Homo sapiens: one gene and its partner. The protein of the gene in region 2 binds, or shares a complex with, the protein of the main gene of each other region. Each region holds a gene or a part of one and is shown on either strand. Other genes may lie near its edges. A codon is read from its position in the direction of its gene.

Region 1 (7,042 bases), on a different chromosome or scaffold from region 2:
GTGCGTGCCTGCATGTGTGTGTGTAACAATAGGCAGCATGCAGAAGGGAAAAGATACTTTTTATAACCTAGAGGCAGCTTTTCTCTGCTTTTGTGTCAAGAAGGAAGAAGGGAGTTTGGAGAGGGATACAAATTCTTTTTAATACTAAGCTCTCTACCTCAAAACCAGAGATAGAATATGTAATAATTTGTAGAATTTCTAGACTTAATCTGATTTAAAAAAAATTTTTTTTTTTTTAGGTTGAGACTGAGCTAAAGTTAATCTGTTGTGACATTCTGGATGTACTGGACAAACACCTCATTCCAGCAGCTAACACTGGCGAGTCCAAGGTTTTCTATTATAAAATGTAGGTTCTATACTAGAAGGGAAAATGTAAGATTGAAAGTTGGTCCTTTTAGAACCATAACTTTGTTCTATGTAGGTTTTCAACTTTTATTTAAGAATAATTGTTCAATGTTAGAAGGATAGTTAATATTGTAATGAAAAGGTGGTTGGGCTATTATGAAAATGTATTAGCTTTTGCTTATTTATATTCTTTTGTTTTTGTGAGACCTATCCCATTCCCCTCCCCCAAACGGCATACATTTCACAGTGCTTAGTGTTATATATAGACATTTTATTTTATGATTAATAAACTGTCATGCCATTCCTTGGAACCACTTGCTTGTTTAATTCTGGTCTATCAGGTGATAATTTTATTAATTTTTAGAGGCTCCTCAGTTAATTTCCTGGGATTTTTGCTTATATTTAGTAATATGAAATGTCTAAGGAAAAAAATGAAACGAAGCCAGTTATTCCTGAGAGTGTTTAAAATTATTGAAGTACACCTAATTGTTACATATATTTTTGTCACATTTTATATAATATAGAACAATTTTAGCTTATTTTCCTTTAAAAATCGTTCCTAGTTTAAATTTTTTTTTTTTTTTTAATTTTGGTTTTGTTTTAGGAAAGGGGACTACCACAGGTATCTGGCAGAATTTGCCACAGGAAACGACAGGAAGGAGGCTGCGGAGAACAGCCTAGTGGCTTATAAAGCTGCTAGTGATATTGCAATGACAGAACTTCCACCAACGCATCCTATTCGCTTAGGTCTTGCTCTCAATTTTTCCGTATTCTACTACGAAATTCTTAATTCCCCTGACCGTGCCTGCAGGTAAGTTGTGGGGAAGAACAGCAGCGCTCAGCGTGAAAGTTAAGGGGGGCGCTGTTTGGGTTTTCCGTGTTGTTTCTTGGGCCTGTCTTTGTAGACTTGGCTGCATAGTAATTCTTTTGGCTCTTACTGAAACTACTTTGGATAGTATTAAAACAGACCTGTCTCAACCCACTAGCATAGCAGTCAGCATAATTATTTTGATGTGGGATATTTTTGTTGCTGGTAGATTGAAATCTAACATGTTAAAATGAGTAGAGGAAGGAAATGAGAGGAATTAGAATTATTTTAATTTTTGTTATATTAGTTTTCAGTCTTTTTTTAAATTTGAGACCATGTCTCACTCTGTCTCCCAGGCTAGAGTGCAGTGGCGCCATCTCAGATCACTGCAGCCTTCACCTCCTGGGTTCAAGTGATTCTCCTGTCTCAGCCTCCTGAGTAACTGGAGTTACAGGGGCCTGCCACCATGCCCAACTAATTTTTTTTGTATTTTTAGTAGAGACGGTGTTTTCACCATTTTGGCTAGGCTGGTCTGGAACTCCTGACCTCAAGTGATCCGCCCGCCTTCGCCTCCCAAAGTGCTGAGATTACAAGCATGAGTCACCACACCCAGCCAGTGTTCTGTTTCTATGGGCATGTTTTTAATAGTTACTCTCGTAGCAAACATAATTTTATATTTTCTGTTTTAGCATAAACAAGTTTCAGTCTTACTAATGTGTGTTAAACTGTTCCCCCATTTATACTTCAGCTTGTTCCCAGTTTTTGATAATGTAGATAAATATGTAAGGAATATTTATACGTACATAACTTTTTACTTTTAAAAAGTTGTGATAGCCTGGGTGCAGTGGCTCACGCCTGTAATCCCAGCACTTTGGGAGGCTGAGGTGGGTGGGTCACCTGAGATCAGGAGTTCGATACCAACCTGACCAACATGGTGAAACTCTGTCTCTATTAAAAATACAAAATTAGCCGGGTGTGGTGGTGCATGCCTGCAATCCCAGTTACTCGGGAGGCTGAGACAGGAGAATTGTTTGAACCCAGGAGGCAGAGGTTGCGGTGAGCCTCGATTGCACCAGTACACTGTAGCCTGGGTGACACAGTGAGACTTTTTTTCAAATCTCTCTCTCTCTCTCTCCCCCTCTCTCCCCCCCTCCCCCTCCTCCCCCCCTCCCCCTCCCCGTCTCCCTCTCTCTCCCCGTCTCCCTCTCCCTCTCGCCTGGGCGACAAAGCGAGACTTTTACACACACACACACACACACACACACACACACACACACACACAACAATTTAGTGGCACCGAATACATTGACAGTGTTGTGTAATCACCACTATTTGAAAACTTTCTCTTCACCCCACACAAAGCGAATTATAGCCATTAAACAATCAATAACTTCATTTCCCCTCTCCCTAGCTGCTAGTAACTTTTATTTTACGTTGTCACTATGAATTTGGCCCATTCTAGATACCTCATGTAAGTGGGATCATATAATATTTGTCCTTTTGTGGCTGTCTTTATTTCATCTAGCGTAATGTTTTTATCCATGTAAAAGCATGGATCAGAGCTTCAGTCCTTTTAGTGACTGAATTTACACAATTCATTTTATGTATTTTGCACACATTGTTTAGTCATTAAACTTTTGGTGGTCAGTGGGTTTCCACCTTTTCCCTATGGTGAGTACAATGCTGCTATGAAAATGGGTGCACTAAGTATTTGCTTGAGTCCTTGTATTTAACTTCACCTTGAGGTGGAATTGGGACTGAAAATTCTGTGGGTAACTTTTTTTTCCGGACAGGATCTTGTTCTGTCTCTGCAGTTGTGCACTCATAGCTCACTGCAGCCTTGGCTTCCTGGGCTCAGCCGATTCGCCTACCTGAGCCTTCCAAGTAGCTGTCACTAGAGGTGGATGCCACCATACCTGGCCTTTTCTTTTCCTTTTTTTTTTCTTTTTTCTTTTTTTTGAGGGAGAGCCTGGCACTGTCACCCAGGCTGGAGTGCAGTGGCGTGATCTTGGCCCACTGCAACCTCTGCCTTCCAGGTTCAAGCGATTCTCCTGCCTCAGCATCCAAAGTAGCTGGGATTATAGGCGCCTGCCACCATGCCTGGCTAATTTTTTGTATTTTTAGTAGGGATGGGGTTTCACAGTGTTGGCCAGGCTAGTCTCGAACTCCTGACCTCGTGTGATCTGCCCGCCTCGGCCTCCCAAAGTTCTGGGATTACAGGTGTGAGCCACTGTGCTTGGCCAGCCCTTTTTTTTTTTTTTTTTTAAGATGGAGTCTCGCTCTGCTGGCCAGGCTGGAGTACAGTGGTGCGATCGCAGCTCACTGCAACCTCCACCTCCCAGATTCAAGCGATTCTGGTGCTTCAGCCTCTCAAGTAGCTGGGATTACAGGCATGTGCCACCATGCTTGGCTAATTTTTGGGGGCATTTTTAGTAGAGACGAGGTTTCACTATCTTGGTTAGGCTGGTCTCAAACTCCTGACCTCAGCCTCCCTCCCAAAGTGCTGGGATTACAGGCATGAGCCACTGCGCCCGGCCAATTTTTAAATTTTTTTTGGGCTGCGTGCAGTGGCTCACGCCTGTAATCCCAGCACTTTGGGAGGCCGAGGAGGGCAGATCACGAGGTCAGGAGATCGAGACCATCGTGGCTAACGTGGTGAAACCCCGTCTCTACTAAAAATACAAAAAATCAGCCGGGCGTGGTGGCGGGCGCCTGTAGTCCCAGCTACTCGGGAGGCTGAGGCAGGAGAATGGCGTGAACCTGGGAGGCGGAACTTGCAGTGAGCCAAGATCACGCCACTGCACTCCAGCCTGGGCGACAGAGCGAGACTCCGTCTCAAAAAAAAAATTTTTTTTTGTTGTTTTGTTTTGTAGAGGCAGGGTCTGGCTGTGTTGCCGAAGCTGGTCTTGAAATCCTGGCCTCAAGTAATCCTCTTGCCTTAGCCTCCCAAAATGCTGAGAATACAGGCCTGAGCCACTGCACCAGGCCCTTTTGCCCATTTTTGAATTCATGTTTTTTTCGTTTGTTAAGTGTTGAGAGTTCATTATTCCAGATAGTAACCTCTTAGCAAGTAAATGGTTTGTGAGTATTTTCTCCTCTTCTGTAGGTTGGCATTTTGTTGTTGTTGTTGTTTTTTGCTATTGTCTTTTTCTTTTTTTTTTTCCCCCGAGAGGAGAGTCTCGCTGTGTTTCCCAGGCTGGAGTGCAGTGGTGCAATCTCAGCTCACTGCAACCTCTGCCTCCCGGTTTCAAGCGATTCTCCTGCTTCAGCCTCCCAGGTAGCTGGGATTACAGACGCCCGCCACCATACCCAGCTAATTTTTGTATTTTTATGTAGAGATGGGTTTTCACAGTGTTGGCCAGGCTGGTCTTGGACACCTCACCTTAAGTGATCCAGCCACCTCGGCCTCCCAAAGTGCCGAGATTACAGGCGTGAGCCACTGCACCCAGCCTATTTTAAATTTTTACAGTAAATATTGCAGTAGCAAAATGGTTTTTTTGCTTTTTTTTTTTATTTTGACGGAGTCTCACTCTGCTGCTGTGGCTGGAGTACAGTGGCGTGATCTCAGCTCACTGAAAGCTCAGCCTCCTGGGTTCAGGCGATTCTCTCGCCTCAGCCTCCCAAGTAGCTGGTACTACAGGCACCCGCCACCACGCCCGGTTAATTTTTTGTATTTTTTTTTTTTTTTTTTTGAGACGGAGTCTCGCTATGTCCCCCAGGCTGGAGTGCAGTAGCGCGATCTCGGCTCACTGCAAGCTCTGCCTCCCGGGTTCACGCCATTCTCCTGCCTCAGCCTCCCGAGTAGCTGGGACTACAGGCGCCCGCCACCACGCCCGGCTAATTTTTGGTATTTTTAGTAGAGATGGGGTTTCACCGTGTTAGCCAGGATGGTCTCGATCTCCTGACCTCGTGATCCACCCGCCTCGGCCTCCCAAAGTGCTGGGATTACAGGTGTGAGCCACCGCGCCCGGCCTATTTTTTGTATTTTTAATAGAGATGGGGTTTCCCTGTGTTAGCCAGGATGGTCTCGATCTCCTGACCTCGTGATCTGCCCTCCTCGGCCTCCCAAAGTGCTGGGATTACAGGCGTGAGCCACCGCGCCCGGCCCCTTTTGGTTTTTGTATGTGTTTTTTTTTGGTTTGTTTGAGGACAACTGCTTAAGCAAAGTAGGGTTTTTAAGTGAAAGCCTTTCAAAGTTTGAGGAAAGGGGATTAACTGATACATTGGAACTTTAATGTTGACTATTATAGGCATGCTTCACTGCGCTTGACTGAATTTTTTTTTTTTTTTGCATTTTTAGTAGAGACAGGTTTTCACCATCTTGGTCAGGCTGGTCTCGAACTCCTGACCTCAGGTGATCCACCTGCCTCAGCCTCCCAGAGTGCTGGGATTACAGGCGTGAGCCACTGCGCCCAGCCAATGTAAAAACATTCTAAATGGCTAGTTGAGTTTGTCCAGATAGGGATCGTAACTGAAGAAGCTGTGGCTATTTAGCTAATACTGGTGGTTGCACCTTTCCTTGTCAGACTCCAGTCTAGCTGTCCCACGTGTAGCTCCAGTTTAAAGTCACTCGCATGCCTTTGCTCATGCTTCTGCTTAAACCTGAAGTGTGTTTTGTTTTCTCCTTATCCATTGAGATTAGTTCAAATTTGACTTTCCCTTTAATTGCTCCTCCTTCTGGGTCCCTGAAATACTTTATTTGGAATAGCACTTCATTCTTCTTCTTCTTTTGTTTTTGTGCTCTCTTGCCCAGGCTGGAGTGCATTGGCACAGTTTCACCTCACTGCAACCTCCGCCTCCCAGGTTCAAGGGATTCTTCTGCCTCAGCCTCCTGAGTAGCTGGGATTACAGGCATACGCCACCATGCCCGGCTAATTTTGTGTGTGTGTGTGTGTGTGTGTGTGTGTGTGTGTGTGTGTGTGTTTTTAGACGGAGTCTTGCTCTGTTGCCCAGGCTGGACTGCAGTGGCGTGATCTCGGCTCACTGCAGGCTCCGCCTCCTGGGTTCACACCATTCTCCTGCCTCATCCTCCCAAGTAGCTGGGACTACAGGCACCTGCCACTGCTCCCGGCTAATTTTTTTGTATTTTTAGTAGAGACGGGGTTTCACTGTGTTAGCCAGGATGGTCTCGATCTCCTAACCACGTGATCCGCCCGCTTCTGCCTCCCAAAGTGCTGGGATTACAGGCTTGAGCCACTGCACCCGGCCTAATTTTTTGTGTTTTTAATAGGTTTTGCCATGGTGGCCCGGCTGGTCTTGAACTCCTGGCCTCAAGTGATCTGCGCGCACGCATCAGCCACCCAAAGTGTGCTGATTACAGGCATGAGCCACCACAGCCAGCCTCCTCCTTGTAAAATAGTTATGTATTTGTCTACCCTCCATTTCTAAATTTTTAAGTTGATGTGGACTTAGATTATGTCTCTTTTTTTTCTATTGGTATATCGTATCGTTTGTTGGACATAGTACACAGTACTCAGTAAGTGTGGATTTTCTTTTAAAACTGTAAATGGCTTACATAATCACATTTCCATGGCGTCTGTGTTGCCTTTTATTTTCTTTGCTTCCCTGCCTCCATTAACGTGAAATTAAATTTTTTTAAACTTTGAGGTATTGTCCAAGATTTTCTTTTTGCATTAATACTTTGTTAAATATCTCAACCTTGTAATCCAGCACTTTGGGAGGCTGAGGCGGGCACATCACGAGGTCAGAAGATCAAGACCATCCTGGCTAACACGGTGAAACCCTGCCTCTGCTAAAAATATAAAAACAAATCAGCCGGGTGTGGTGGCGGGCGCCTGTAGTCCCGGCTACTCGGGAGGCTGAGGCAGGATAATGGTGTGAACCCAGGAGGCGGAGCTTGCATTTAGCCTACATCCCGCCACTGCACTC
Region 2 (7,600 bases):
GGAATTGGTCTGTCGGGGAGTCTGGGTGCTGCTGACAGGGTCCCATGTCTGCCCTGCCTGTCTCTGAGGGCTCCGAGAAAAGCCAGGGAGTCTTGGCTTTGGAAGTGAGACTAATAAAGTGCTTTAGCCCCACCCCAGTCCTCACTGACAGATGGGGAAATTGAGGCACAGAGCGGCAACAGATGGAGAAACCGAGGCACGGAGCGGTGACAGGTGGGGAAACTGAGGCACAGTGGGCATGAAGTCTCAAACCCCACCCGCCCGGGAAGGCACAGGGAGAAGCTTGTGCTTTTTCAGGATGGAAGTGGACGGAACTAGGATGCAGAAGACCCGGCCAAGAGCAGTCTCCCACTCGCCACAGCCCAGTGTCACTCTCTGGGCCTCGGTTCCCCCATTTGAACCTGGGACTAAGGTTCCTTTATTTCCCTGCCCTTCGGGGGCAGAACAGAGGCCTGTCAGGGACTGTGAGGCGGCCCTCTCTCCATGCCTGGTTTCAAGGCAGCTGGAGGGTGAGGGGGGCTCTAAGCTGTGGGACTCTCCCGTGGGGACTGATTTCCCGTTCTCTCCTACAGCAAAGGCAGGTGAAACTATTGTCCTGTAGGCCTCAGAGTCCCCGTCCAGGAGAGCCGCCTCTTCCCTGTGCAATGCTCTGAGTGCCTGACATGAACCAGGTGCAACCTCCAAGGTTTCCATGAACCCTGACTCATTTATGGGGTGCACTCGGGGGAGGGCAGGGGAGACCCCAGCTGAGAGGCCCTCCCTGCTCAGGCAGCCAAGACCCAGCTAAAGTAACACCCATCTCCTTGGTGGCTGGAAACCTAAGAGGGGACCCCTAAAACCAGGACCAGACCAAGCCATCCTCACGCCCCATGTCTGGGTGGCTTCTGACCAAGCCTGACTTGACTTCCCCTCCCAGACGGAGCTAGGACAGCACTCGGGGTGCCCCAGCCCATGCCGGCACCCTCGTGGATCTCTCACCCCCATCTTCTGGACAGGGACACGCGTTTGGGGTGTCTCTCTCTCTCCCACATCCCCCGACAAGCCGGCATCTTTTCCAGGTGATTCCTGAGCCCTGCGTATGAACTTCCTCCTGTTTTCCTCCACAAGACAGAGGCACAATTCCCACATGTGAGCTTTTGCTTGTGGAGCCAAGGGAAGCTGGAGGCTCAGGTCTCCGGCTTCCATTGCTGTGTGGCCTGGGGCAAGTCACTGCCCCTCTCTGTGCCTCGGTTTGTTTGTCTGTAATTTGGAAGCTAATAGTCCTGCAATAGGCTGGGCATGGTGGCTCACGTCTGTAATCCCAGCACTTTGGGAGGCCGAGGCGGGTGGATCACCTGTGGTCAGGAGTTCGAGACCAGCCTCGCCAACATGGCGAAACCCCATCTTTTCGAAAATACAAAAATTTGCTGGGCGTGGTGGCGGCCACCTGTAATCCCAGCTACTCAGGGGGCTGAGGCAGGAGAATCGCTTGAACCGGGGAGGGGAAGGTTACAGTGAGCCGAGATCGCACCACTGAACTCCAGCCTGGCTACAGAGTGAGACCCTGTCTCAAACAAACAAAACACAGGCATTTTTCTCCAAAAGGCCGATGTCATGTAAAAATCCATCAGCATACGGCATCCCTGCCCTGCCCCGTACTGGGTGATGCTGGGGATCCAGAGAAAATGTGGCCCCAGCTCCCATGGCTCAATAAGGGCTTCTCAAATGAAAGGACAGCTGTAGGATCTGGAGGGGCCTGATCCAGAGGCCACACCACGCTACCAACATTTTTTTTTTTTTTGAAGACAGAGTTTCACCCAGGCTGGAGTGCACGATCTCAGCTCACTGCAACCTCTGCCTCCCGGGTTCAAGCGATTCTCCTGCCTCAGCCTCCCGAGTAACTGGGATTACAGGTGCAGGCTACCATGCCTGGCTAATTTTGTGTTTTTAGTAGAGACGGGGTTTCACCATCTTGGCTAGGATGGTCTCGATCTCCCGACCTCAGGTGATCTGCCTGCCTCAGCCTCCCAAAGTGCTGGGATTACAGGCATGAGCCACTACGCCCAGCCTTTTTTTTTTTTTTTTTAAACGGAGTCTTGCTCTGTCACCCAGGCTGGAGTGCAGTGGTGCAATCTCATCTCACTGCAACCTCCGCCTCCCGGGTTCAAGCGATTCTCCTGCCTCAGCCTCCAGAGTAGCTGGGATCACAGGCACCCACCTCCATGCCCGAATAATTTTTTTTTTTTTTTTGTATTTTTAGTAGAGATGGGGTTTCAGCATGTTGGCCAGGCTGGTCTCAAACTCCTGACCTCAGGTGATCCACCAGCCTCAGCCTCCCAAAGGGCTGGGATTACAGGCATGAGCCACCACACCTGGCCTATCAATATTTTAAATAAAGACAGGATCTGATCTGCACTTGTTTAACCCTGCTTCTCTTTGCCTTACCCTGCTCCTCCACCCGGGTTCCAATAAAACTTTATTGACAAAAACAGAGGCTCGGCCCATAGTTTGCCGGTTAGGTTTTGTGAAACATTCAGTAAAATGATGTTTATCTTGATTACTGAGGTGCATGTTTGTCTGTTTTTGCATTGTTTTATTATTTATTATTGATTTATTTTTGTGATAGGGTCTCACTCTGTTGCCCAGGCTGGAGTTCAGTGTTATGATCATAGCTCCCTGCAGCCTCGACCTCCTGGACTCAAGCAATGCCCCCACCTCAGCCTTCTGAGTAGCTGGGACCACAGGCACACGCCACTGTGCCAGGCTCATGTTTTATTTTTTGTAGAGATGGGGTCTCACTGTGTTGCCCAGGATGGTACCAAACTCCTGGGCTCAAGTGATCCACCCACCTCAGCCTCTCAAAGTGCTGGGATTACAGGCATGTGCCCAGCCTTTGCATCATTTTAAACTCTGTGGCGGGCGCAGTGGCTCACGCCTGTAATCCCAGCATTTTGGGAGGCTGAGGCGGGCAGGTCACCTGAGGTCAGGAGTTCGAGACCAGGCTGGCCAACACGGTGAAACCCCAACTCTACTAAAAATAATAATAATAATACAAAAATTAGCCAGGTGTGGTGGTGCACGCCTGTAGTACCAGCTACTTGGGAGCCTGAGGCAGGAGAATTGCTTGAACCCGGGAGGCGGAGGTTGCAGTCAGCCAAGATTGCGCCACTGCACTGCAGCCTGGACAACAGAGTGAGACTCCATCTCAAAAATAAATAAATAAAATAAAAATTAACCAGGCATGGTGGTGCACACCAGTGGTCCCAGCTACTCAGGAGGCTGAGGTGGGAGAATCACTTGAGCCCAGGAGGCGGAGGCTGCAGTGAGCTATGATCACACCACGGCACTCCAGCCTAGGGGACGGAGCTAGACCCTGCCTCAAAGAAAAAAAAGTGTGGCATGGGACCCACTCAAGGGAAGTTCATAAGAAAAATGTAGTCTCCTTCCCCTCCTGCCCCTTCTCAGGGGATTGGGGGAGGCCAGGGGGACTCAGCAGTGGCTCTGTGGACCTCTGCTCCCAGCCTCGAGCTGCTGCGTGACCCTGGATGGAGCCCCTACTCTTTCTGGGCCCATTTTCCCTAAGGGAAACGGGATCGGGGATCCCACATAAAATACACTCAATCCTTGCAGCAAAAACATCTTTGGGGCCGGGCAGGGTGGCTCACACCTGTGATCCTAGCACTTTGGGAGGCCGAGGAGGGAGGATCGCCCCAGGAGCTCGTTCCAGGCTGCAGTGAGCTGGGATTGCACCACTGCGCTCCAGCCTGGGCAACAGTGTGAGACCCTGTCTCCAAAGAAAAAGACAGTTTTGACAGGCACGCAGTTCAGCTGGAATTTCACCCCGCGTCTGCTTTTCCTTGGGTTTTTTCCATTCTTGATTTTTCCATTTATGGTGATTTTATCTAAAACGTCTTTTCTAAATAAATGCATCGAGGCAGTGAGGAAGGGGGAAGGGGGAAAACGAGCCGATTCCATCTTTTCAAAGAAAAATCCAGCAGGCGTGGCTGTTAGCAGGCGGGATGTGGGAGCCACTCTTCTTTCTTCGCCGGAGCACGGAGAGGGTGGGGATTTGCCCGCAGTCACACAGCGAGGCGCGGCAGAGCCGGGAGGGTCCTCGCCCACGCTCCACATTCGGGGGCCCTGGGATGGGGCAGGGGGCCGCTGGGGGCTCCTCAGATGCTGCCGCAGGAGGGGAGGTGGTTCCCGGGGAAGTGAAACCCACAGACCCCACTTGCACCTTCTCCAGGGACAGCCGCCACCGTGTTCTGTGCGCTCCCCTACGGTGGGCCAGCTCTGCCCCTCTCTCCCCATCTCACAGGGCTCCCCACTGCCCCGCACCCCAGCCTGGCCTCTGAGGCTGTGGGGGGCCTTCCACTGCCCCCACCCGGCTGTCAGCCCTGGGGCTATTGACTTTCAGATCCCACCTCCTGGTCTCTGTCCAGGCTGTTCCCTCCCGGTTACATCCTGTCCTCTGCGGGCGGGCAGGGGAGGCGGCGGCCTCGGCTGCTGGGGAAGTGTTGCAGAAATGTCCCCTCCCCACCCCGGGCTGCGGTCTGACAGTGGGCCGGACGTTTTCCTGTCAGCTGCCGGCGCCAGGTCAGACCCCTCCTGCGAGGCCAGGGGCTGTGGCCATTGGGAGTTTGTCCCCACGGACCCCTCCTCCCCCAGAGGGCACGCCAGTCTTGAAGGTAGGGGGCTCCTGGAGCGGGGAGCTGGACAGAAGCGGCCACTTTTTGAGGTTGGGATCTGGGCGGGGGTGGGTCGAGGCCTGGCTGCCGGCAGCAACCGCACGGCTGAGCCCTCGGGGATGAGGCCTGAGTGTGGATCCCTGGGTCCCTGGACACTGTCTCCCCCGCAACTGACCCCCAAAGGCCTGTCCTCAGGCTGAACACTCTGTCCCCATCCCAAACGTGCAGAGGGGGGTCCTTCCCACTGCCTGGAAAATTGATGGGTGACAGACCTGCCTCATGATTGAGGAAGTGGGCCCAGAGAGGGCAGGAAACCCACTCGGGATCACACAGCAGGGCCCCAGAGAGGGCAGGAAACCCACTCAGAATCACACAGCAGGGGCCCAGAGAGAGTAGGAAACCCACTCGGGATCACACAGCAGGGCCCCAGAGAGGGCAGGAAACCCACTCGGGATCACACAGCAGGGCCCCAGAGAGGGCAGGAAACCCACTCGGGATCACACATCAGGGGCCCAGAGAGGGCAGCAAACCCACTCAGGATCACACAGCAGGGCCCCAGAGAGGGCAGCAAACCCACTCAGAATCACACAGCAGGGGCCCAGAGAGAGTAGGAAACCCACTCGGGATCACACAGCAGGGCCCCAGAGAGGGCAGGAAACCCACTCAGAATCACACAGCAGGGGCCCAGAGAGAGTAGGAAACCCACTCGGGATCACACAGCAGGGCCCCAGAGAGGGCAGGAAACCCACTCGGGATCACACATCAGGGGCCCAGAGAGGGCAGCAAACCCACTCAGGATCACACAGCAGGGCCCCAGAGAGGGCAGCAAACCCACTCAGAATCACACAGCAGGGGCCCAGAGAGAGTAGGAAACCCACTCGGGATCACACAGCAGGGGCCCAGAGAGGACAGGAAACCCACTCGGGATCACACAGCAGGGGCCCAGAGAGGACAGGAAACCCACTCGGGATCACACAGCAGGGTCAAAACTGGACAAGGGAGTGGAGTGTGGGTGCGCCTGTTCTCACCAAGGGCCCTGGAGCAGGAGGCCTCGACGGTCTCCCAGGCCCCAGCACTCACGGACCCCTCCCCATGTCGCCCTGTGCGTGCACACGGTCACCCCACACACGCCCCGTTTGACCTTTCCCCAGCAACATGAGCAGCCCGGAGCCCCCCACAGAGCCCCCCGAGCCCGACAACCCCACCTGGTCGACTCAGCCCACGTATAGCAACCTTGGTAAGCAGCTCCCCAGGGAGCCCTGGGCTGCGGGGGTGCAGGGAGCGGCAGGGGGGTGCAGGGAGCGGCAGGTGGGTGCAGGGAGCGGCAGGAGGTTGCCGGGCACCATGGCCTCTGGGAACAGCAGCAGCTGGTAAAATGAGTGACCTCCGGGAAGGCCCGGAGTAGGCCAGGGCTGAAAAATAACCTGTGGGTTGGTGGGCGGGGCGTGGTGGCTCACGCCTGTAATCCCAGCACCTTGGGAGGCTGAGGCAGGTGGATCCCTTGAGGCCAGGAGTTCAAGACCGGCCTGGGCAATATAATGAGACCCGCCCCCCATCTCTACAAAACAAAAAAAATGAGATGGACATGGTGTCAAGAGCCTGCAGTCCCAGCTGCTCGGGAAGCTGAGGTGGGAGGATCCCTTGAGCCCAGGAGGTCAAGGCTGCAGTGAGCCATGAAATAGAAAAAAATATATACCATTAAAAAGAGAGAGAGGCTGGGCACGGTAACTCATGCCTGTAATCCCACCCTTTAATCCCAGCACTTTGGGAGGCCAAGGAGGAGGATCACTTGAGGCCAGGAGTTCAAGACCAGCCTGGCCAACATGGCAAAACCTGTCTCTGCTAAAAATACAAAAATTAGCCAGACATGGTGGTGCATGCCTGTAATTCCAGCTACTCGGGAGGCTGAGGCAGGAGAATCGCTTGAACCTGTGAGGCAGAGGGTGCAGTGAGCCAAGACTGAGCCACCGCACTCCAGCCTGGGCGACAGAGGGAGACTCCATCTCAAAAAAAAAAAAAAAAAAAAAAAAAAAGGCCAGGTGCAATGGTTCAAGCCTGTAATCCCAGCACTTTGGGAGGCCGAGTCAGGCAGATCACCTGAGGTCAGGAGTTTGAAACCAGCCTGGCTAACATGGTGAAACCCCATCTCTACTAAAAATACAAAAATTAGCTGGGCATAGTGGCGGGCGGGCACCTGTAGTCCCAGCTACTTGGGAGGCTGAGGTAGGAGAATCGCTTGAACCTAGGAGGCGGAGGTTGCAGTGAGCCGAGATCGTGCCACTGCACTCCAGGCTGGGCGACAGAGCAAGACTTCAAAAAAGAAAAAAAGCAAGACAGACGCTTGTGCAAAGCCACGGAGGTAAGTGGGAGTCGCTGAGTGCTGGGTGGCATCACTCTCTGAAACTGATCCATCCTCCTATAAGCCTCAGTTTCCCCTTCTGTAAGCTCTGCCGCCCAGGCTGGAGTGCAGTGGCACAATCTCGGTTCACTGCAAGCTCCACTTCTCAAGTTCACACAATTTTCCTGCCTCAGCCTCCCGAGTAGCTGGGACCACAGGCGCCCACCACCAAGCCCGGCTAATTTTTTGTATTTTTAGTAAAGACGGGGTTTCACCGTGTTAGCCAGGATGGTCTCGATCTCCTGACCTCGTGATCCACCCATCTCGGCCTCCCAAAGTGCTGGAATTACAGGCATGAGCCATTGTGCATGGCCGCGTCCGGCAAATTTTTAAAAAATTTTTGCAGAGACAGGGTCTCACTATGTTGCCCAGGCTGGTCTCAAACCCTAGGTTCCAGTGATCCTCCTGCCTCGGCTTCCACCTTCCTAAGTGCTGGGATTACAAGCATGAGCCACCGGCGCCCAGCCTCATTACTTCCATGTTAGAGATGGGGAAACCGAGGCTGAGAGGTGGAGTCACGTGTCCCGTTCCCACT

What was found. The genes of interacting proteins can lie anywhere in the genome.
Region 1: the proteins of PEAK3 (region 2) and YWHAE are in contact, whole or in part, in a cryo-EM structure (PDB 8DP5), measured with the Homo sapiens proteins. Residues at the interface, in NP_940934.1 of Homo sapiens: Gln144, Arg147, Arg154, Ser223, Leu224, Ser225, Pro226, His227, Lys293, Phe294, Ala297, Trp298, Pro339, Pro342, Thr460; in NP_006752.1 of Homo sapiens: Asn113 (codon at 312), Thr114 (codon at 315), Gly115 (codon at 318), Lys118 (codon at 327), Tyr122 (codon at 339), Asn147 (codon at 1,017), Ala154 (codon at 1,038), Asp157 (codon at 1,047), Ile158 (codon at 1,050), Met160 (codon at 1,056), Thr161 (codon at 1,059), Glu162 (codon at 1,062), Arg193, Lys196, Ala197, Asp200, Asp201.

What each region holds. Positions count from the first base shown.
Region 1 is NC_000017.11:1,355,206-1,362,247, reverse strand, and holds part of YWHAE (14-3-3 protein epsilon), read left to right. Parts: intron 1-239; coding exon 240-346; intron 347-949; coding exon 950-1,156; intron 1,157-7,042. UniProt on the Homo sapiens protein: Adapter protein implicated in the regulation of a large spectrum of both general and specialized signaling pathways. Binds to a large number of partners, usually by recognition of a phosphoserine or phosphothreonine motif.
Region 2 is NC_000019.10:2,279,154-2,286,753, reverse strand, and holds the start of PEAK3 (protein PEAK3), read left to right. Parts: upstream 1-4,578; 5' UTR 4,579-4,667; intron 4,668-5,818; 5' UTR 5,819-5,822; coding exon 5,823-5,904; intron 5,905-7,600.